3 separate regions of the Homo sapiens genome follow, and regions 1 and 3 are each linked to region 2. Evidence: fine-mapped expression QTL. A gene starts in region 2. Each other region holds a variant in brackets. All regions are shown on one strand. Distances are between the middles of the regions.

Region 1 (8,272 bases), 140 kb after region 2:
GGTGGGTGGATTACTTGAGGTCAGGAGTTGGAGGCCAGCCTGACCAACATGGTGAAACACCGTCTGCACTAAAAGTACAAAAAATTATCCAGGCATGGTGGCACACGCCTGTAATCTCAGCAACTCGGGAGGCTGAGTCATGAGAATCGCTTGAACCTAGGAGGCAGGCTCAATGTTTATCTTGTAACTGACTATGTTACTGAATTATAATTTTTTTTTTGAGACCTAGTCTCATTCTGTCACCCAGGCTGGAGTGCAGTGGCGTTATCTTAGTTCATTGCAACCTCTGCCTCCCAGGTTCAAGCGATTCTCGGGCCTCAGCATCCCGAGTAGCTGGGATTACAGGCATGCACCACCACGTCCGGCTAATTTGTTTGCAATTGTAGAAAAGACAGGGTTTCACCATGTTGCCCAGACTGGTTTGAACTCCTGGCCTCAAGTGATCTGCCCGCCTCGGCCTCCAAAGTACTGGGATTAGAGGTGTGAGCCACTCAGTCCAGACAACATTTATTTCTTTATTCATTTCACCAGTTGGCATGGTTTCCAGACTTTTCTTGATTTATTTTATTTTATTTTTTGAGAAGGAGTCTCACTCTTGCAGCCCAGGCTGGAGTACAATGGCGCAATCTTGGCTCACTGCAACCTCCACCTCAGGGGTTCAAGCGATTCTTCTGCCTCAGCCTCCTCAGTAGCTAGGATTACAGGCACCCGCCACCATGCCCAGGTAATTTTTGTATTTTTAGTAGAATTTAGGAGTTTCCTAAATTCTGGGGGCTTGTCTCCCTGTTCCCCCACCCCGACTAATTTCCCTCGGTCGCTGGCGCTGCCCCGTCCCTTAGGTCGCTCGGGCCGCCCCACTCCGAGACTTTTTTTTTCTTTCGCTGGCTCTTTCAGCTTCAGTTTCCCTAGGGGGCGGGAGGGGAATATTTGGGGGCTCTCCTGCCTTCCTCTCCGAGCCGCGGAAGGGGAGACGCAGGGAGGAGGTCCGGCCGGCTTTGGGCTCCAGCCAGGGGTCCGCGGAGACTATGGTCTCCGAAGGCCTTAGCCGCGGGGCATTTCGCGAGCTGCGCGTCTCTCTCAACGGCGCCACCGCGCCCGGAGTCCAGCCGCGCCGCGCTGCGCCCAGCCCCGGCGCCCCAGGCTCTCCGCCCCCGACTCAATGCTCCCGCGCTCCCCCTAGCGGCCGCCGCGCCACCTCGCCCCGTCCCAGGCTCGTAGGCTGCTCAGCTCACGTGACCGCGCTCCGGTAACGGAAGAAACAAGATGGCGGCTGAAGGCGATCCGCAGTGAGGCCCCAGCCATTCGGATTGAGCCTTCTCCCTCCAACCGCTTCCGCAGGCCGGGCCCCTCCTGCCCTGCCCCTCTGGCCTCCCCACCCGGCCCCGGCCGCCCCCACTGCGCCCATTGCGCCCGCCCCTTCCCGGCCGCTTTCCCTTCTCCCTCCGCCTCGGTTCCAACATGAGGGGCCGGCGGGGCAGGCCGACCAAGCAGCCCGCGGCTCCCTCTGCGGAGCGCTGCGCCCCGGCCCCGCCGCCGCCGCCGCCGCCCACGTCCGGACCCATCCGGGGTTCCGCTCGCGGCACCGCGGCAGCAGCCGGGGCAGGTGGGCCGCCGCCCAGGCTGAGGTGGCGCCCAAGACGCGGCTGAGCTCGCCCAGGGGGGGCAGCAGTAGCCGGAGAAAGCCGCCGCCGCCGCCAGCCCCACCCCAGCACCAGCGCCCCGGCCGGGGGGAGGCGGGGGCAGCCACCTGGCCCGGACAGCTGCAGGTCCGGACGGCCGTCAACAAAGTGGTGTAGTCACTACAGGTGCTCGCTGCCACACCCAGCTAATTTTTTGTATTTTTTAGTAGAGATGGAGTTTCACCGTGTTGCCCAGGCTGGTGTCGAACTCCTGAGCTCAGGCGATCCGCCCGCCTCAGCTTCCCAAAGTGTTGGGATTATAGGCGTGAGCCACTGCACCTGGCACAGGTATATGTATGTATTTTTTACAAAATTGGATGAAGTATAATTTATTTGTTAAATATTTTCACTTATGCCATGATATCTTATTTAATCTTTAATTTGTCTATGAAAATACCTGCTCTGCTAGGGGGCTTCTAGTTGAAAACTCATTAATTTAAAAAATTAATTTTGAATTCAGCCACCTATTCTTTTTTCTAATTGTTTCTTGTAGCTTTTGCTTTGATTGGAATAACTTTATTCTAGGAATAAAGTTTTGTCATCTGCAAACATGAATCATGTACACATCTGATTTTCTTATATTTATGTCTCCTTTTTCTCTTCAAATTACATTGCCTTTACCATTGATGGGAACCTGGGTAATAAAGAAAAAAGAAAAAAATTGCATTCCCTACCACCTCCTCCAAAACAATGTCAAATGTTAGTTATAATGATAGGCATCTTAGTATGCTATCCCAATTTAATGGAACTGTTGCAGATATTTAATGGTTAACTGTTGGTTTGAGACCTTTAATGTGTTGAGTATATTCACCTATTTCAATTTTTTTTCTGTTTAAGTTTTTTTTTTTTAAATCAGATATGGCTATTATATTTTGTTAAATGACATCTTAGCATCTTTTAAGATGATCATATAGTTTTCCTCCTGCATGCTACATATTAATTACAGTAGTGTATATTCATAGAATTATATTAGTAGATCTTATATTGATTCACCCTTACATTCTTGCAGTGAACCTCTCTTGATCATATTATTTTTTCATGTACTGTTTGACTTTATTTATTTAGTTTTGAGACAGAGTTTCGCTCTTGTTGCCCAGGGTGGAGTGCAGTGGCGCGATCTCAGCTCACCACAACCTCCGCTTCCCAGGTTCAAGCGATTCTCCTGTCTCAGCCTCCTGAGTGGCTGGGATTACAGGCGCCCGCCACTACGCCTGGCGAATTTTTGGTATTTTCAGTAGAGACAGGGTTTCACCATGTTGGCCAGGCTGGTCTTGAACTCCTGACCTCAGGTAATCCGCCGGCCTCGGCCTCCCATAGTGCCGGGATTACAGGTGTGAGCCATCGCGCCCGGCCTGTTTGACTTTTAAATAGGTATTTTAATTTTTTAGTTTATACGTGTACAGTGCATAATGTATTTAAGATTCATCTGTGTTGTTGTATCAGTAGTTTCTTTATTGCTGAGTAGCAGTCCTTTATATGAGTGTATCACAGTGCATTTATCTGTTCAATAG[T/A]TGAATATTTCAATTATTTCTAGTTTGTGGCACCTATGAATAAAGCTGCCGTAAACATTTCCATAATGTTTTTTGTCTGAACACAATTCTTGTTTCTCTTGAGTAAATACCTAGGAGTATGATTTCTGGGTTGTATGTTTATAAGAAACTGCCAAAACTGTTTTCCAAAGTAGCTGTACCATTTTGCATTCTTACCTGCAAATGTATGAAGAGTTCCGGTTGCTCTGTATCCTCCCTAGCACTTGATATTTTCAGGTTTTTTTTTTTTTTTTTTTTTTTTTGAGATGGAGTCTGGCTCTGTTACCCAGGCTGGAGTGCAGTGGCGCGATCTCGGCTCACTGCAAGCTCCGCCTCCCGGGTTCATGCCATTCTCCTGCCTCAGCCTCCCGTGTAGCTGGGACTACAGGGGCCTACCACCACGCCCGGCTAATTTTTGTGTATATTTAGTAGAGACGGGGTTTCACCATGTTAGCGAGGATGGTCTCGATATCCTGACCTCGTGATCTGCCCGCCTCGGCCTCCCAAAGTGCTGGGATTACAGACGTGAGCCACTGCGCCCGGCCTCAAGTTTTTTTTTTTTTTTTGGCCACCTTAATAAGTATATGGTGGTAGCTTCTTCTGGTTTTAATTTCCTTGTCCCTAATGACTAATGGTTCTGAGCCTCTTTTTATGTGCATCTTTTGATTTGCCATCTGTATATCATTGTTTATGGAAAAATACTAAAGTCTTTTTTTTTTTTTTGAGACAGAGTCTTGCTCTGTTGCCCAGGCTGGAGAGCAGTGGCACAGTCACCACTCACTGCAGCCGCCACCTTCTGGGTTCAAGCCATCCTCCCACCTCTTGGCCTCCCAAGTAACTGGGATTGCAAGTGCGCACCACCACACCTGGCTAGTTTTTTTTTTTTTTTTTTTTTAATAGAGATGGGGTTTTGATATGTTGCCCAGACTGATTTCGAATCCTGGGCTCAAGCGATCTGCCTGCCTCGGCCTCCCAAAGTGCTGAGATTACAGGCATGAGCCACCATGCCTGGCCAAGATACCAAAATCTTTATTTAAGATGTTTAATTGGGTTGCTTTCTTTATTGTTATTCTTCTTTTATTTTATTTTATTTATTTATTTATTTGAGACGGAGTCTCGCTGTGTCGCCAGGCTGGAGTGCAGTGGCGCGATCTTGACTCACTGCAAGCTCCCCCTCCCGGGTTCACACCATTCTCCTGCCTCAGCCTCCCAAGTAGCTGGGACTACAGGCACCCGCCACCACGCCCAGCTAATTTTTTGTATTTTTAGTAGAGACGGGGTTTCACCATGTTAGCCAGGATGGTCTTGATCTCCTGACCTTGTGATCCTCCTGCCTCGGCCTCCCAGAGTGCTGGGATTACAGGCGTGAGCCACCACGCCAGGCTTCTTTTATTTTTTTAGACAGAGTCTCGTTCTTTCACCCACGCTGGAGTGCAGTGGCATGATCTTGGCTCACTGCAGCCTGTCATTCCCCTCGACCCCAGGTTCAAGGTGATCCTCCCACCACCTCAGCCTCTGAAGTAGTTAGGACCACAGATGCATGCCACCATGTGTGGCTAATTTTTGTATTTTTAATAGAGATGGGGTTTCGCTATGTTGCCCAGGCTGGTCTTGAACTCCTGAGCTCAAGCAATCTGCCTACCTTGGCCTCCCAAAGTGCTGGGATTACAGGCATGAGCCACCATGCCTGGCCAATTTCTTACTGTTGGGTAGTAAGAATTCTTTATATATTTTGGATATAAGTGCTTTGTTAGGCTGTGTGATGTTCATACATTTTCTCCCCATCTGTGCCTTGTGTTTCATTGTCTTAGCGGTGTCTCTTTCCCAGAGCATAAGTTTTAAATTTTGATGAAGTCTGATTTACCACATTTTTTCTTTTACACATTTGGTGTTCATCTAACAGCTCTACCTAACCCAGACCTTGCCAGACTTTTTCTGTAAAAGGTCAGATAGTAAATATTTCAGCCTTGCTGTCCCTGTTGCAGCTCTGCCATTGTAGCAATGAAAGCAGTCATAGACAATATGTAAATGAATGATAATAGCTGTTCCAATAAAACTTTATGAACACTGCAGTTTGAATTTCACATAATTTACAAATTATCAATTATATTGTTTTGATTATTAGAAAAACAGGTAGTGGATTGGCCATGGTTTGCTGATTCCTGGCCTGACAAACCCAAGTTCACAAAGATTTTCCTCTTTGATTTTGTTGTGGTCGTTGTTCCACACCTTTTTTCACTGTTTCCTTAAGGTAGAGTGTACATATTTATAAGGGTACATGCAATATTTTGATAGATTCATACAGTGTGTAATGATCAAATCAGGTTAATTAGGGTATCCATCATCTCAGATGTTTATCCTTTTTTTTGTATTGGGAAGATAACAAATGTTCTAGCTATTTTAAAATATACACTAAGTTATTGTTGACTCTAGTCACCCTACTGTGCAAATAAAAACTAAAACGTATTCCTTCTATCTGACTGAGTTTTTATGCCCATGAATCAACTTGTCTTCATCCCTACCTGCTTCCCAGCCCCCGGTAACCATCATTCTACTGCCTATCTCCATGAAATCAACTTCTTAATCTCTCATATATGAATGAGAATATGTGATACTTGTCTTTCTGCCCTTGGCCTATTTCACTTAACATAATGTCCTCCAGTTCTATCCATGTTGCTGCAAACAGATTTTATTTTCCAAACCTTAAGCTTTATAGATGACTTCACTTTTTAAATGGCTGAATAATATCCTCTTGTGCATGTATACCTCATTTTCTTTGATTTTTCTTTCTTTCTTTTTAAATAGAGATGAGTTCTCACTATACTGCCCAGGCTGGTCTTGAATTTTTTTGCTCAAGCAATCCTCCTGCCTTGGCCTCCCAAAGTGCTGGGATTCCAGGCTAAACCACTGTGCTCCTTTATGCGTTTTTTTGTTTTTGTTTTTGTTTTTAAAGACAAAATCTTGCTCTGTTGCCCAGGCTGGAGTGCAGTGGTGCGATCTTGGCTCACTGAAGCCTCCACCTCCCAGGTTGAAATTATTCTCGTGCCTCAGCCTCCCAAGTAGCTGGGATTACAGGCACCCACCACCACGCCCAGCTAATTTTTGTATTTTTAGTAGAGATGAGGTTTCACCATGTTGGCCAGGCTGGTCTCGAACTCCTGACCTCGGGTGATTCATCTGCCTTGGCCTCCCAAAGTGATGGGACTACAGGCATGAGCCACTGCGCCCAGCCCCTTTGTGCACTTTTAAAAACATATCTTAGAATTTGTGATACATGTTTTATTTTCATTTTCATTTGGTTCACAATATTGTAAAATTTCTACTATGACTTACTCTTTGACCCATGATTTGTTTTAAAACGTATTGTTTAATTTTCAAACATTTAGGGATTTCCCAGACATCTTTGTTGTTGGTTTCTAATTTAATTCCATTATGGTTAGGGAACATACTCGTTATGATGAATTAAAAAAAAATGTAGAGGTTTGTATATGGCCTGAAACATTGTTTGTTTAGGTCAATGTTCAGTTTGTAATAGGAAAGATGTGTTCTGCTGCCTTTAGGTAAAGTGTTTCATAAATAATAATTAGGTCAAGTTGGTTGATCGTGTTAAGGTCTTCCCTATCCTTGCTGATTTCCTGTCTGCTTGTTCTAGTGATTACTGAGAAAGGAGTGTTGAAGTCTGCAATGATTGTTATGGGTTTGTTCTCTTTCTCCTTAAAATTCTGTCTGTTTATGCTTCCTGTATTTTGAGGCACTGTTATTAGATGCAGAAACATTTACAGTTTTGTCCTCTTGATTATTTGACCCCTTTATCATTCTGAAATAACCTTTATTTCTGGTAATAATCATTATATTAAAAACCATTATTTGGCCAGACATGGTGGCTCATGCCTGTAATCCCAGCACTTTGGGAGGCCGAGGCGGGTGGATCACCTGAGGTCAGGAGTTCGAGTCCAGACCGGACAACATGGCGAAACCCCATCTCTACTAAAAAGAGAAAAATAGCCTAGTGTGGTGGCACACGTCTGTAGTCCCAGCTACTCAGAAGGTTGAGGCAAGATAATCACTTGAATCCGGGAGTTGGATATTGCAGTGAGCCGAGATCACGCCACTGCACCCCAGCCTGGGAAGCAGAGCAAGACTCCATTTCAAAAGAAAAAAAAAAAAAAAACCCAAAATAGGCCAGGTGCAGTGGCTCATGCCTGTAAACCCAGCACTTTGGAAGGCCGAGGCAGGTGAATCACCTGAGGTCGGGAGTTCGAGACCAGCCTGGCTAAGATGGTGAAACCCCGTCTCTACTAAAAATACAAAAATTAGCCAGGCACGGTGGCAGCTGCCTGTAATCCCAAGTACTTGGGAGGCTGAGGCCAGAGAATTGCTTGAAGCCGGGAGGCAGAGGTTGCAGTAAGCCAAGATCATGCCATTGCACTCTAGCCTGGGTAACAGAGCAAGACTCCATCTCGGGGGAAAAAAAAAAAAAATTACTTAATATTAATATAAAATTAGTGTTTTATATTAGTAGTATAATACTGTTTTTGACTAGTGTTAAAATGACATATCTTTCTCTACCCTTTTGCTTTTAATCTAGATATCATGATATTCATTTATTTTTTAATTTGTAAAAATAGAGATGGGGTTTTGCCATGTTGCCCAGGCTGGTCTTGAATTCCTGGGCTCAAGCCACCTGCCCACCTCAACCTCCCAAAACGCTGGGATTATAGGCGTGAGCCACCATACTTGGCCATATCATTATATTTTCAAATGGTTTCTTGTTTTTTCGTTTTTCTTTTAAATGTAATCTGACAGCGTCTTTTAATTAATGTGTTTTGGACCATTTACATTTAATATGATTGATGATGATTGGATTTAGGTTTCCTTTTTATTATTTGTTTTCTGGTTATTTCTTTTTTTGGGGGGTTTCTTCTGTTTCTTTTTTCTGCCTATTTTTGGATTAACTGAATATTTTTTAGTGTTATGTTTTATTAATTGGCTTTTGGTTATATCTGTGCTATGTTTTTGCTGTAGGAATTACAAAATATATACCTAACCTACCTACTTAGAGTT
Region 2 (8,000 bases):
TTAGGAGTACATATGCAGGTTTGTTATACAGGTAAACTGCTCATCTCGAGTTTGGTGTACAGATTATTTAGTCACTCAGGTAATAAGTATAGTATGCGATATGTTTTTTGTTTTGTTTCGTTTTGTTTTGGTTTTTGAGACGGAGTTTCGCTCTTGCTGCCCAGGCTAGAGTGCAATGGCGTGATCTCGGCTCACTGCAACCTCCGCCTCCCAGGTTCAAACAATTCTCCTGTCTCAGCCTCCTGAGGAGCTGGGATTACAGGCGCGTGCCACCATGCCCGCCTAATTTTTGGTATTTTTAGTAGAGATGGGGTTTCATCATATTGGCCAGGCTGGTCTCAAACTCCTGACCTCAGGTGATCCGCCCGCCTCGGCCTCCGAAAAGTGCTGGGATTACAGGTGTGAACCACTGCACCCGACCAGGTATTTTTTTTTTAATCCTCTCCCTCCTCCTGCCTTCCACCCTCAAGTAGGTCCCAGTGTCTGTTGTTCCCCTCTTTGTGTCTTGTTTTTTAGAGATAGGGTCTCACTCTGTCACACAGACTTAGAGTTCAGTGGCATGATCATAGCTCACTGTAGCCTTGAGCTCCTGCATTTAAGCAATCTTCCTGCCTCAGCCTCCTGAGTAGCTAGAACTACAGCTATGTGCCACCACATCTGGCTATTTTTTTTTTTTTTTTTTTGAGACAGGGTCTGGCTCTGTTCCCCAGGCTGAAGTGCAGTGGTGCAATTTTGGCTCACTGCAGCCTCCGCTTCCTGGACTCAAGCGATTTTCCCACCTCAGCCTTCTGAGTAGCTAGGACCACAGGTGCACACCGCCTTCCCCTACTTTTTATATATTTTTTTGTAGACAGGGTTTCACCATGTTGCCCAGGCTGCTCTTAAACTCCTGGCTTAAGTGTTTGGATTACAGGCGTGAACCACTGCAGCCGGCTAATCTCTTGGCTACCATAAATGGTGCTGCCATGAACGTGGGTATACAAGTTTTTGTTTGAACACTGTTTTCAATTCTTTTTAGTATTTTGGGGGGTATACCCAGGATAAAATTACTGGGTCATATGGCAATTCTATGTTCACCTCTTTGAGAAACCACCAAGTCTCTAACTCATTTTTATGTTTACAATTTACAAGGTGTCTTGATCACCAGTTAGAAGAAGCTGGACAGCTGCAGCCAAACCCCTAGGTTGGACCCAAAGAGGTCTCTTTTTCTTTCTTTCATTCATTCATTCTTTTTCTTTTTTTTTTTTTTTGAGACAGAGAGTCTCACTCTGTCACCCATGCTGGAGTGCAGTGGCCTGATCTCGGCTCACTGCAACCTCCGCCTCCCACGTTCAAGCAATTCTCCTGCCTCAGCCTCCCGAGTAGCTGGGACTACAAGCGCCCACCACCACTCCCCACTAATTTTTGTATTTTTAGTAGAGATGAAGTTTCGCCATGTTGGCCAGGCTGGTCTCGAACTCCTGGGCTCAAGTCATCTGCCTGCATCAGCCTCCCAAAGTGCTGGGATTACAGGCATGAGCTACTGTGCCCGGCCTTCTTTTTCTTTCTTTCTTCCTTCCTCCTTCCTCCTTCTTCTTCTTCTTCCTTCATTTGACTTTCAGGTCAAAGAGGTCTCTTTTTAAAAACTACACTGACTAGAACAGCCAGACTTGATGTGAGCCAAGTTTGTTCCAAGGCAAGCTTACACGCAGGGCTTTAAACAGCTTTCTCTGCTGCTCTGCATGTCACGACATGAACTGGCTGGGCAGGAATACCTTCCTGCCTCCTAGGCATTCTTGGTTTTCCATTATATTACACACACTTCTGAAAAAAGATGTTAACTACCTAACTTACAAGTTTCTCTCCTCTTTGTTGGAGTTCAGATTAGCACCTGGGGTCAATGCAGAAACAGTGCTCGGGGACAGGTTCTATGCCCCAATCCTGGGAGAGGCGAGTCCTTGCATGGTTAGAGAACAGGGCCTCCCAAACACTAGATGAGATGATGGAAAAATTCTCCATCCAGGGCAGGCTTTTACCATATATTTTGCCTGACAGCACTGCTCAGTGATTCTGACTCTTATCAATCCACAGATATTGGAGGTGAGCCTACTCTACTTGTATATTGTAGGTTGTCCACCCTCTGGGCTTGCCAGAGCCACAGGAGATAATCCTACTACAGGCATTGTTTACTGCAGCCAATCTACTGAGTCGAGGCTTCTCGGTCATTAACCCAACCCCAGGGAGTAACTGATTAGTACCGATTTTAAAATTTAAACCTGTTCGGGAGTTTCTTGGAATGCTGACCTCTTACCTCCGCTCCCTTATACATACGAAGTTTCTGAGCCACAGGAGCCCAAAGCTACGTTGCATTGCCCAAAACAGGGACAGACCAAAGTGGCTTTTTCCACTTGAAACTAAATACTAAGAATGAAGAGGTCGGCTCTCGGGGGTCCCGGTTAAGCAGTTTCTCTGCCAACCCACAGCTGTCACTTGTGGCTTGTCTCCTGGCCTCCTTTCAGGTGTCCTGGCCTGAATCTGCTGTTAGGACAGAAAAAAAGTCCCTGGACGGGTCATATCCTCTGTAATCTGGCAGGAAAGCTAAAATTTGCGTGCTCCCATTCCTCGTTGTGTTTGTGTATCTGCTTCCTTGTTGGGAAGAGCCTACATCACAGTGTCCGGTGTAGGGGATTTTCACCATGACCTCACCCTCCTGCTGCCACTCGCTAATTCCGGCGCGGCCAAGCGTCCCTGAAGTCACATCACAGCCCAGGTGGAATGCACGAGTGAGCCATTAAATGCCCCTGGTAGCACGTCTCAAGTGAACATCAACTCCAGTTCTTTCCCCTCACAGAGAGCCCTGGTAGGGGTCTGAAAATGCCAGAAAGAGCTGGAAGTGGGGGTGGACGACGTCTGGTTACCGTTCTGGGATTCGGAGACTAGAAGGTCAAGGGAGTCACTTTAAGAAAACACACCAGGCCTGGGCCTGGTGGCTCTGTCTGGAATCCCCGCACTGTGGGAGGCCGAGGCTAGAGGATCGCTTGAGCTCAGGAGTTCGAGACCAGCCTGGGCAACATAGGGGGGAGCCCCTGTATCTAAAAATAAATACAAAAAATTTAGCCGGGTATGATGGCACACGCCTGTACTCCCAGCTACTCGGGAGGCTGAGGCGGAAGGATGGCTTGAACCTGGGAGGCGGAGGTTGCAGTGAGTCGAGATCGAGCCAATGCACTCCAGCCTGGGCGACAGGGTGAGACTCCGTCTCAAAAGAGAAAAAATAAAATGAAATAAAGAAAATGCACCAAAGGCCTGCCAGGCTCACGCCGGCTGTTCTGTTCGAATAACTTTCGAGTCCGTGGCCTCGAAATGGGTCGGGTGGGCGGTGACAGCGGGCAGCGGGCGCGCAACGCGGGAGAAAGGGAGGCTAAGTGGGAGCCCAAAGAACCGCGTCCGGGACCTGGTCTCCGGCCTCCCGGCCTTGGGGAAGGAGCCCTTCTGCCCACAAGTGGGCTCAGGCCATGAAAGGGAAACAGAAAGTCGGGCTCCCCAGCCTGGCCCACGTGACCGCGGTTCCTCAGCCCTCCCCGCGCGCCCGGCCGCGGCTGCGGGCGCGGGCACCCGAGCGACACATCGAGCTCGTGACTCGCCGCCCAGGGCGGGAGGCGGAGAAGCGGCCGCGGCGTGCGAGCGCGCCTCCGGGAGGCAGCGGGAGCGCGCACGCTCCGGGGCCACCGCCCCTCCGGGGCCGGGCCCGCCCTCCTTCCCTCCCTCCCTCCCCCGCTGTCCTGGCCCGCCCTGCCCGGCCCGCCCTGCGAGTCAGTTCGCTGGTTCCCTCCCTCCCTGGGCGCGCTCGGGCCGCCGCCGCGCTCCCCGCCCTCGAGCCTCGGTGCCGGAGCCGCCCGCCGCCGGAGGAGGAGGTGGAGGGAGCCGGAGGGGCCCGCCGAGGCGGCGGCGGCGGCGGCAAGATGGCGGACTTCCTGCCGTCGCGGTCCGTGCTGTCCGTGTGCTTCCCCGGCTGCCTGCTGACGAGTGGCGAGGCCGAGCAGCAACGCAAGTCCAAGGAGATCGACAAATGCCTGTCTCGGGAAAAGACCTATGTGAAGCGGCTGGTGAAGATCCTGCTGCTGGGCGCGGGCGAGAGCGGCAAGTCCACCTTCCTGAAGCAGATGCGGATCATCCACGGGCAGGACTTCGACCAGCGCGCGCGCGAGGAGTTCCGCCCCACCATCTACAGCAACGTGATCAAAGGTGCCGGGCCGGGAATGGGGGCCGGGGGTTAAGGGCAGGGGGGCTGGGGCGGCGGCGGGTGCGGGGCGGGGCACCGCCCTGGTCCGCTGTGTCGCTGGCGAAGGAACGGGCCCGGCGGGCGGGCTGGCGGGAAGGGGGCGCGCCCCGGCAACTGGCCCTGCCCGCCCGGGGTGCCCTCGCGCCCCAGGGCGAGAGGATGCTCGGGGTCGCCCTGCTCTCCCGCTTGTCTCCCCGGTGGGCGTCACGGCCATTCCCCCACCCCCCACCGCGTCCTGGTCTCTCCCCCTGCGAGAGGGAAGTGGGGCGAGCTGGGTGCTGCCTCGGGGTGTGGGCAGACCTCTCCTGTCCTCCCCGCTGCGGATGAGGCAGGAACACCAATAGCAGCCCTAGCCGCTTCACCCCCATCCCCTGCTCGGGCGATGTGGGCCGAACCTCGCTACCCTGGCTGGGTGACCCGAGTCACATGGGGTCGCATGCGCTCCCAACTCCCTGCTTCCTTGGCCGTCTCCTAAGCAAGCGAGTTCTGGAACCGTCGCAATAAGGGAACTTTTTGCCCGAGACTTCTTGTCAAGGGCGTAGGGTGACAGCCTCCTTTTGGGCGAGAATATGAAACTTGAGGAGTGTCAGGTTGACTGTACTGGAATCAGGAGAGAGTGGACCCATACAGTTAGCATGAAAATGTAGCATCTGTGCTTTTTCGCCCCAGTGTCACGGTCAGGTAGGATGTTTGCGTGTGATTTCTGTGCAACACGTTCCACTCTCCTTTTCGCTAAGTAACTGGGGGCTGGCAGGAAGGGAGTACCACTGCTTCTATTTAGATGAAATGTAGTAGTAAGAAGACTGGCCTAAAAGTCATGTGGATCCTGTACAGATGGAGACAATGAATGAGTGTTGAGTTAGATAATTGGCTCGGCTCTTTATTGACAGTAGTTTTAAAATTAAACTTTGTTCTTAAGTGAAAAATAAACAAGTTGTTTATTTCTGGGCATTCAAAGAAATCGAAAAGATGGTTTTTATTTTGTCATTTGAAAGATAATTAACACTCGTTTCTGCGTGTCAAGTATGTTCTATAGAAAAGGCATTTTGGCAAAATTTAGGTGCAGCGCCTGGTAACTCAGGTGCATCTGGATTTTATTTTATCTGGGGAGCAGTTTAGGAGTTTGCTACAGATTGCAGGTCTTTTTAAGTGGGATTTTTGTTCAGGAAGTACATAAGGGACTTCTGCATGTCACCCCCCCGCCCCCTCCCCGCCAACCGCCTCCCGAGCTTCCAGCGTTTGGGTAAAGGAAAACTGCCTGAAGAGCCAGGCATTATGGAGTAATGAATTAGAGAGAATCACTAGACCACAGCCAGCTCTAGCCCTAGTACCTCTGCAGTTAAACTATAAAGAACAGTTGTATTTATCCTGCTGTAATGTTTAGCTCAAAACTAATTAAGGTCTCTTTCAAGGCTGCAGACTCTGCCTTGACAGTCCTTAATTGAAGGTACCTTTGTAACCTGATGCAGCTGAACTTAAGGAATTATGTTAATGAATAGCATCAACATGTTAACTGACTGTGAGCCTGGTAAACACCTCGTTCTTAATGTACACTGAGTTGTAAGTGTGATCTACGTTGAGCATTGATTATGAGATGATGTAAGTCATCAGGAATCTAGTTTTTTCAAGTTGACATGAAATTTGACAGTAGAACAGTTTCTCAGGCTGGGCGTGGTGGCTCACTCCTGCAATCCCAGCACTTTGGGAGGCCAAAGTGGGAGGATGGCTTGAGCCCAGGAGTTCCAGACCAGCTGGGCTACATAGCCAGACCTCGTCTCTATTAAAAAACAAAAACAAAAAAACCCCACCCGTTTTTCAGTTATTCAGATGACTTCCTAATAGCCAAGTGACTGTTCAGATTGATCAAACTTAATAAAAGTAATAGATCAGTGATAGGAAAAATGAGTTTCAACTAACCTCTGTGAGTTGGAGTCCGACTTTGTATTATTTTGCAGTTGATCTTCCTCCCTTTTAGGGAAATTGAAGGCCATCCTGTAACTTAAACTGGATTGAAACTTGGGCTGGAAGAAGTTTTTAAATTTTGAATGTGTTGCTAGAAGACTCAATGTTGGGTTAGGGTGCCGAAGCAACAAACAGAACATGGAGCTATAGTAGTTGGTTCTTAGTGTTTCATAAATGAACATCTTTTAGGCTCATAAAACCTTGGTTGTGTCTGTTTTCTTCTGAGCTTGGACATTGTTGGTCTGTGCAGCATAACTTCTTTTTCTTTCTTGAGTTAGATTGTTTTTTGACTACCTTCTATCCTAGAAGTTATTTTATAAATTGGAACATGTTAAAAATCCTTCAGAGAGAGGAATTGTGCTAATAGTATTTGCTTTTCAAGGCTCTAATTTTAAGACAGTGAGCAACTGTTATTTTTTTTAACCTCTGAGAAGTTACATTTGTTTTCGATGTTGGTCTTCATTTTTGAAGAAGGTTTGTCTAGGTTAATTCAGAAGTATAAGGAAATAATACTGGAATAAAAACTTATGATAATATGTAATGACTCCTCTCCATACATTTTTTTTCTTCTTTTTAAACAAAGGTATGAGGGTGCTGGTTGATGCTCGAGAGAAGCTTCATATTCCCTGGGGAGACAACTCAAACCAACAACATGGAGATAAGATGATGTCGTTTGATACCCGGGCCCCCATGGCAGCCCAAGGAATGGTGGAAACAAGGGTTTTCTTACAATATCTTCCTGCTATAAGAGCATTATGGGCAGACAGCGGCATACAGAATGCCTATGACCGGCGTCGAGAATTTCAACTGGTAAGAGATTTGCTCTTTTAAAACGTGTGGTTTTATTTTAATGATGTTTAGTAATACAGGTTGCACATCCCTAATGCGAAAATTCGAAATGTTCCCAAATCTAAAAGTATTTGAGATGGAGGAACAGACTGAAAGGCTAAGGCACAGACCTAATGTGTCCTAGTCTCTAATGACTACGTGTAAAAATAGTGTATAAAATTACCTTTAGGCTACATATCTTAAGGTATATATGAAACATAAATGAATTTCTAGTTTAGACTTGAGTCCCATTCCCAGCATATCTCATATGTATGCAGATATTTCAAAAATCTGAAAAAATTCAAAATCCAAAACACTTCTGGTCCCAGGCATTCGGATAAGGGACACTCAACCTGTATCTGATTTTAGCACACTTTTTTCACTGACTTCCATAATTTAATGTATCTATCCAAAATTATAGCCTCAGAAATTTGTTTTTTTGTTTTTGGGGGGTTTGTTTTGAGACGGAGTCTCTGTTGCCCAGGCTGGAGTGCAGTGGTGTGATCTTGGCCCACTGCAACCTCTGCCCCCAGGGTTCAAGCAACTCTCCTGCCTCAGCCTCCTGTGTAGCTGGGTCTATAGGCGCGTGCCACCACACCTAGCTAATTTTTGTCTTTTTAGTAGAGGCAGTTTCGCCATGTTGGCCAGGCTGATCTTGAACTCCTGACCTCAGGTAATGTGCCCACTTTGACCTCCCAAATTGCTGGCATTGTGCCAGGCATTTTTCCCCTTTTTTCTTTAACGAGACTACCCATAAAATGCTTTGTAGCTGTTACACAGCATTGAAGACAGGTTTGGAATAAAAGTATCCAATCCAGGTTAAAGATACAGAATACAGTTGAAACAAATTTTTAATCAAGTGTTTTGTAATTTAACTGTGAATGCTGTGATTGGGTTTTATTTGCCAAAGATCAGAAAGATTCCAGCAGTGATAGAAATCTAGACTGTG
Region 3 (8,272 bases), 86 kb after region 2:
GGGAGCCTTCCTTCCTAATCAAGGTAGGTAGACCACTGGAAGGTACATCTGGTTTTATATTTTGTCCTGTAGAAGTCAGATTTCAGCCCAGTTGTGTAGGAGTGAGGATGAGCTTATGCTCTTATCAGAGCTTTGAGTACAGAGACATTTGATCTGGAATTTCAGCCAGCCTCTTCAACCCCAGAATTCAGAGGTTCAATCAGAACAGACATTAGCTTAAGTTTTCCCATCAGTTGTCTATCATTAAACTGGCAAAATCTAGATAATTAGAAAATATGACAGAGATGATCCAGACAGAGATGTTCAGGTTTTTCCTTGTGTAATTCAAAAAGTCTCGTGGTGGAACATCTGACCCTTTTCAAGAGGAAGGATGAAAACTCTACATAGGAACACGATGTGAATGGAAGAAACCTGTCATTGTGAGTCTGGCTTTTGATTAGTCATCTGATGTCTTCCCTAATGTGATGTGACTAAGCCGTAGCTTCTCAGCCTGCAGTTAAATTGCAGAAATGATAGGGCTTACATTAGTTTTGTTTTTATTTGATGTTGAAGATCTTTGAGTCACACTAGAAACGAGGAGTATTTTTCATGTGGCACTAATGAGTTAATTCATAATATGATTTTTTGAGACAAAGTCTCTGTTGCCCAGGCTGGAGTGCAGTGGCACGATCACAGCCCACTGCAGCCTCGACCTCCTGGGCTCAGATGATCCTCCCACCTTAGCCTCCCAAGTAGCTGGGACTACAAGTGCACACCACCATGCCCGGCTAATTTTTTTGTAGATATGGGGTTTTGCCATGATGCCCAGGCTGATCTCAAACTCCTAGGCTCAAGTAATCCTTCTGCCTTGGCTTCCCAAAGTGCTGGGATTATAAGCATGAGCCACCATGCCAGGCCAATATTATTCCCCAAAAGAAGGAAATTGGGTGTGAGGTCCTGCTCCTATGGTCACCATGAGATTTTTTTGTTTGTTTTGGACTCTTGCCCAGGCTGGAGTGCAGTGGCACGATCATGGCTCACTGCAACCTCAGCCTCCCTGGTAGCTAGGACCACAGGTGTGCACCACTATGCCCAGGGAATTTTTAAGTTTTTTGTAGAGACAGGGTCTCACCATGTTGCCCAAGCTGTTCTCAAACTCCTGGCCTCAAGCAGTCCTCCTATCCCAAAGTGCTGAAATTACAGGCATGAGCCACCACGCCTGGCCACCACTAGTTTTTGTAATGGGAGCAGGTTCCATATGAGATGGAGGAATGGATTTCATGATTGTCTTTGTAATTTCTTAGGTCCCCAAGAAATTGATTGGACATGAGGAAACCACTCTAAGTGTGACCACTCTAAAGCATTAGCAGTCAGTCATTTCACTCTAGGGAGAAATCAGAGCTGTATATGGAGAATAGGTAAAGTCCCCAATATGGATATGTATTTTTATATTTGACTGCTTGTATTTTTTTGTTAGATGCAAATAGTACGGTATTCCGAACAGACACTAAAAATAGCTGTCATCTCAAAGAATCCAGTGCTTGTGTCACAGTATGAGAAAGTAGATGCTGGGGAACAGCGTTTAATGAATGAAGCATTCCAGCCAGCCAGTGATCTCTTTGGACCTTGCATTCTCCATCAGATTGGATCACCTCCCACCCTGAGGCCCCCCAAGACTTTGAACAGTTCTTCAGTCATCCTTACAGAAAGATACCCTCTCCAGACAAACGCAGTATTTATATACGGTCCATTGGTAAATACTGGTAATGTGCTAGTTTTGGTTCGGTTTTGCAATGGTTCTGTTGTCAGGAATAGTCCGGGCTATTGGTCTGATTCAGATGGGCCATTTTAGGATCATTTTTGATATTCATTGCAATGGTACAAGTTTTGTAGCCAAACAGACCTAGAACATTTTTTTTTAATTCATATCAACACCGATGAATGTTAAAGGTGTATTGAAAATTTAGAGTTGGTTTTGTTTCTAATTTGAATCCTCTTACTCATAGACTGGGTAAACACTGAATAATCGTCTTAAAGTCTGTTTTTAAATGTTCTTCCATATTATAGGATCTCTATGAAGCACCAGAATTATCAGTGAAGAATATATTAAATGGCTCACGGGCTACTGTAAAGCATATTTCTATCGCTTGAGAGTAAAACTGCTAGAACCAGTTCCTGTTTCTACAACAAGGTGTTCCTTTAGAGTCAATGAGAACACACAAAACCTACAAATTCATGCAGGTGAATTACACAACTTTGCAATTTGAACTGAGTAAAGGAAGCATATGTATATAATATACACTCATACATTTATGTATTTCTTCTTAAATAGGGGACATCCTGAAGTTCTTGAAAAAGAAGAAACCTGAAGATGCCTTCTGTGTTGTGGGAATAACAATGATTGATCTTTACCCAAGAGACTTGTGGAATTTTGTCTTTGGACAGGCCTCTTTGACAGATGGTATTCCGTTTTTGGCATTGTTGTTAGAAGCTTCTTCAACTTGAGAATATTTGAAGATGTTAAAAGAGGGAAAAAAATTCCAACCAAGAATCATATTGATATTTAAAACTATAGTATTTTCAGTTGAGACATTATGCCATAATGGGAAGTGTGCTGTTGGTAGATTGTGATAATCTAGGTTCTGGTTGGCCACTCACTACCTACAGGACCTTAAAGGTAACAATACCCACATCATGGAGTCATTTGGAGATAATTTACATAAAAGTGCCTGTACATAAAAAGTGTGGATAAGCCTGGACAACATAGTGAGACTACATGTCTACAAAAAATAAAAATTAAAAAAACTAAATTAGCTGGGCATGGTGGCACACACCTGTAGTCCTAGCTATGCAGGAGGCTGAGGCGAGAGGATTGCTTGAGCCCAGGAGGTTGAGGCTGCAGTGAGCCGTGATCGCACCACTGTACTCCAGCCTGGGCAATAAATTGAGACCGTGTCTCAAAAAAAAAAAAGCATATATAGGCCTGGCACATATATAGGCATTCAGCATAACAGCTAGTAAACGTCAGTAATTCAGTAGCAAGGTGAATTAAGCCAATTACAGTTTGAGCTATCATTAATGGATGTGAAAATCTTGCTAATTGTTTTTCAATTCTTTTCATAGTCATCTTGCACAGTTAGGATAGCCATAGACTAAGTGTTGCTTCTTTCTCATCATACGACATTTGTTTTTTGTTTGTTTTTTAATTTAAAAAGTAAAAACTTCCATCTTTGATTTGAGATACATAGTAAACATTGACTCATTAGGAACTCTGCATGGTAATATTGGGGATGGGAAAGGTTCACGAAACAGGTTATATTTTTAACCTTTTTTTGTCATCTCTCTACTTCTCCCCTCCCCTTCATTTTTGCTCTTACTTCTCTAACTTCATCCCCAATAATCCAAGACAGACTTGAAAGGGAAAAGGCCCCCTAAGGGGAGTGGTTCATTAGTGTTCTGGGGATGGGGAGTAAGTACAGGGACTATCCTGAGAGTTTATGGTCTGTCTGGATGTTACATTAGCCTTAGGATTTGTGTGGGGTGGTAAGCTTTTTGGGACAAATGTTTCTACTAGAGGTGGGGGCTGTAGGGCTATAGAGCCTCTTCCCACTTACTCGTTTATTCTTTATTCTCCATTTATGTGAGGTTTACTTGTGGCCCCCCATGGCCCTACCAACATGCAGTCTTGGAGACGTGGGTCACTACTCTCTTACTGATTTTGGTGGTGTGAGGTAGCTTTTTATCATAAGTTTTCTCTCTTATTATTAACCTGATAGAGACGGAAACATTAAAAATTAATTTTATCTACCTTTCATTTTTCTTTTGATACAGGGTCTCCCTCTATCAC[C/T]CAGGCTGATCATGGGTCACTGCAACCTCAGCCTCCTGGGCTGAAGGGATCCTCCTGCCTCGCCTCAGCCTCCTGAGTAGCTGGGACCACAGGACCACCACACCCAGCTATTTTATTTTATTTTTTTTGTCGAGATGGGATCTCCCTGTGTTGCTCAAGCTCATCTTGAATTCCTGGGCTCAAGCGAGCCTCCCACCTCAGCCTCCCAAAGTGCTTTGATAAAAGGTGTGAGTCACCACACCCAGCTAAAAAAATAATTTTCAAACCATATGTTCGTTTATCTAGATATTACTAGCTAACTTATCTTATGTATTTGAGGAGGTCAGGAAACATTTCCCCAAACTGTTTTTACTTTAATTCTTTTTTTTGTAAGTTTCTTAAATATTACATGACATGAAAGATTTACATAGGAAAGTGGCAGGATTAGACAGTGACAATATCTTAACACAGTGGTCTTGTTTTCTCCAAGTTTACAAAGATTCATATTTTTAAATTGAGAAGCATTGACTACGAAAGAAAATAATCTTCTATTTGTAGGATTATTGGAAGAAAGAAATGTCCTTGCTGAAAGTATTACTGTAGTGAAATATGCTCACACTTGATTGGCCAGAGGGGGTTACTTGTGATACATGAATAGATTTAGTGTTTTCTTAACTTCTAGAATGCTATTTTCCCTAATTTTCGAATATCAGTCCACATTTTCTGGGTAAAGGGAGGTGAGGAAGTTGTTTTTGAATCAAATTAGATTGAACAAACCTACCATGGGTTATTTTCTTTAAAAATTTATTACTTTAAAATAAAAACTGAACGAGAGACATAAATAAAAGTGATCATGTAAACAAGTCGAATTGTGAAGCAGTACCCTGTAGGGTGAGTTACGTAGCAAACCGTGTTCTCTGTGCTTGCAGAGATGGTTGATATAACTCTAAATGTAACACAGGAAGTCAGTTACAAGGGTATTTATTCTGGTCACCAGACACTAGTGACAGAATAGAGTTGAGCTGCTCTTTAAAAAGGGGGTGGGGGTGGGGAAGGGGACGAGGTTATTCTGTCTAAAGCCGTGGTTTAAAGCATGGGCTTCAAGACATCAGGGCAGTTGTCCTCAGTCAGTGCTGCGTGAGGGAAGGCCAGCAACCCCTCCAGGCACACGTGTAACAGATCTGTTTAGCGTGTCCTTAAAGAGTGAAATCATGACTGCCTATTGTTGATGTGATTTATTTTATTTTATTTGTTTATTTATTTATTTATTTATTGAGATGGAGTCTCGCTCTGTCGCCAGGCTGGAGTGCAATGGCGGGATCTCGGCTCACTGCAACTCCGCCTCCCGGGTTCAAGCCATTTTCCTGCCTCAACCTCCTGAGTAGCTGGGATTATAGGCGCCTACCATCATGCCTGGCAAATTTTTGTATTTTTGTAGAGACAGGATTTCACCATGTTAGCCAGGCTGGTCTTGAACTCCTGACCTCAGGTGATCCGCCCACCTTGGCCTCCCAAAGTGCTGGGATTGCAGGCATGAGCCACCATGCCTGACCCATGTGATTAGTTTTTGTGGTTCCTTTTTGAGTACTTGATTTGGAGTACTTGCTACTTTCAGAAAAAGACTTCTTTTGTGGGAAAAGACTCTGAAACTTCAGTTTCTCAAGTATTTGACCTCCAGCCCATTAAGTTTTACAAGACAAGGCATGGTGGATAGCAGCAAAGGATTTTGATAGGGAAATCTGGGGCTTCTTCCACTTGGAAGAAGCTGACCGGCGCCCTCTAAACCTTTGCCCTATCTGTTTGCACAAGTTGCAGTGTGCTGTTATTGGCTTCAGCATTGTAGAAAGATATAAAGTAAGTTGAGGGATGGATAGTGTAAAGAGGGGGAAGTGGTTATCTGAGTAGCAAACTGATGTATCTATTATATCCTTCTCTAGAGTTATAATTTATCAGAGGAAATTAGTGTAAAGATAAGCAGGAAGCTGTGGTTTAAAAACATGCGAAGAAATGCCCTTCTTAAAAACTTCAGCTTGCCTTAGAGTGATTTATGCTTACAGTTCAATGAGAAATAGTGGAAGAAATTTTCTGCTTCTCTTCCATTTAGGGCAAGAGAGCTTGACTTTGCAAAACTGAATAAATATTGATATGTGTGGCAAAGTTCATTTTTTAAACCCTATAAGTGTGAGGACAGGATTTATCTTTCCAAATATGGGACAGAGGTATGATGTTCATTAGGAGGAAAAAAGTGATTTTCTTTAAAAAGGAAGAAGGAAAGTACCTAATCTCAGTATGTGTGTGTGTGCCCACACTTGCCCACAAACATCAATATACATTCATGTGTTTACTCATGGGTATGACTGCATTCAGGTGACTGCACAGAAATGTCTACACATGTGTTTTCACATACATATGTCTACCCATGCCTGTGTGGACACTTATATATGTATATACATACATGTCAAATTAATATAATGCCTTGTAGAATATTCAGCAAGTTGAGAAAAAATATCCTATCATGCTAGAAACAAAGTATAAGAATGAGTGTATTTCTTTTTCATCTTTTTTCAGTGCGTACTTTTGACATCATTTGTAATTCTGTGTGTATTTGGTACGTGCCATTTCACTCAGTATATCATTAGCATTATTCATATTCACAGCATCATTATCAAATGCAGCGTCTTCATGGGGTAATATGTCACCCTATGATCTAGAAGCCAATGCTTCTCTCTTGCCTGATGGTATTTTGCTGTGGTTTGTTGAAGTGCGCATCTTTCAATGCTTTTCCAGGCACTGGTGAGGTGGATTGATGATGAATCTTCTGGCACACCTGGAGCAACTCCAGAACACAGTCGTGAGGATAATGGGAATTTACTGAAACCCGTGGAAGGAAGCCTTTAAGGAATGGAAAGAGTGGATAATAAAATGCCTGACTGTTCTCCAAAAATAAGGACCTTCAAATAGGAGTGATTGAAATAAATGACTACTTGCATGTTATGCTTTCATTTGGGTGGAATACTTCATCAGAATAAACTATTGATCTTGTGCTGTGTCAAAGTAACAGACTAGAACCTTCTTTCAAGTACCTGAATTGAAATGAAACTCATTTTGAATAATAAAAACTCTAGAAACTCTTTATCTTCTCATCTTACTGGCCTGGTCTGTGGCAGCAAGCACATTATTTCCATTCCCCAAATATGTTTAGGTCTCCCAAGAAAGCTGGGACTGGCGGTAATGAGCAAGTAAATAACTTGAAAAAGAACTGTAGATGCCCCAAGGAACCAACCAACATAATTTCCAGGGGGTGATTTTGTTTTTAGAAGAGCTGCTCCCCTCTGTTAGGGCCAGCCAAGTCACATTTTTGGACGTCCGTGGACTCTGATCACCACAGCCCTCCTCTTCCGTGAGCCTTCCTTACTCTCTCGAGTGCATTAGCTCATTTTTTTTCTTTTGCTGGTTGTCACCTTATTCCTGTTTTAGTTTTTAGCAGCTTAAAATACGACCTCTCAGGAATATTTGCAAGTGAAAATAACAATGGTCCTTACACTACCACAACATTTGGTGGTGGGAGTTCCGTTGCAGGTCTCAGCTATAACATAGTCATTTATGAGGGATCTTACAAATAGTGTGTAATGGTATTTATATTTGTGAGTGTTACACTTTCTCTATAGACTTAGAGCAGCTTTCAGGTTTATTTCAGTAATAATGTCTTTCTCACCTTCTCACATTGTGAAGTGTTTACCTGAGTCAGGGAGAGAGTTTAATGGGGTTATCTGTCGGGGTGCCATGAATGCTGATGATGGTCTGCAGGTTGTGAACATCAGCCCCATTGCTACAGGGGTGGACAGGTGGAAAAGCTCAGACTTGACAAACCACCTCTGCTAGATAGATGTGTCTTGGAAATCCAGAAATTACAGTGAATATTTTATGGAATGCCAGTGAGCAGACAGCATTTCCCACTTTCCTATCTTACCTTGAGGGTAAGACTTAAAGGTATTTTTTTTTCTTGTAATTTGAAGCCTAAATTCTTTGATTGTTTGATGTATGCAATATGATGTAAGGCACATTTTATACCCCTAGTCAGTGGTTTCCCTTGGATTCATTCTCCTACTTGATTGAACCCATTTAAGTCATTTTAGGAAATGGTGGTTTGCTATTAAAATTAATTGGAGAGAATACTTGGTCATTCTGTTAGCAAAAAGAGACTGATGGAGCATGGTGTTTTATGGATTCTGTTACAGGGCTTATTCCTCCTTGAATAATGTGCTTTAAAAATTATTGTCCATTCGATTACATTTTCTTTTATTTTCCTACAATGTAAGCACGGTTTTAGTCCTGTAGGTCAGCCTTTCTCACAAACTCTTTTGAACTAAGATTTGCCTAGGTGAATAAATTGGGGATGACGGTTGTCTGGAGAAGATATAAGGTCCATTTGTGAATACTCTGCACTATGAGACCAGGAGAAAAATC

What was found.
Region 1: its variant is fine-mapped to the expression of GNA13 in whole blood (TOPMed, PIP above 0.99).
Region 3: its variant is fine-mapped to the expression of GNA13 in whole blood (TOPMed, PIP above 0.99).

The regions. Positions count from the first base shown.
Region 1 is chr17:64,912,445-64,920,716 of GRCh38, reverse strand. LRRC37A3 (leucine rich repeat containing 37 member A3) reads left to right here and starts at 1,239. Exons shown (of 15, transcript NM_199340.5): 1 at 1,239-1,286; 2 at 1,847-1,967. RefSeq lists enhancers at 1-336, 337-838, 914-1,414 and silencers at 1,030-1,249, 1,350-1,439, 1,510-1,889. The variant T/A (reference allele first, on the strand shown) is at 3,191.
Region 2 is chr17:65,052,535-65,060,534 of GRCh38, reverse strand. GNA13 (G protein subunit alpha 13) reads left to right here and starts at 3,795. Exons shown (of 4, transcript NM_006572.6): 1 at 3,795-4,224; 2 at 6,807-7,033. The coding sequence starts at 3,942. RefSeq lists silencers at 3,508-4,017, 4,298-4,557.
Region 3 is chr17:64,966,702-64,974,973 of GRCh38, reverse strand. It overlaps the pseudogene AMZ2P1. Among named protein-coding and RNA genes, the nearest start is that of LRRC37A3, 51 kb to the right of the region's middle. RefSeq lists a silencer at 269-563. The variant C/T (reference allele first, on the strand shown) is at 3,827.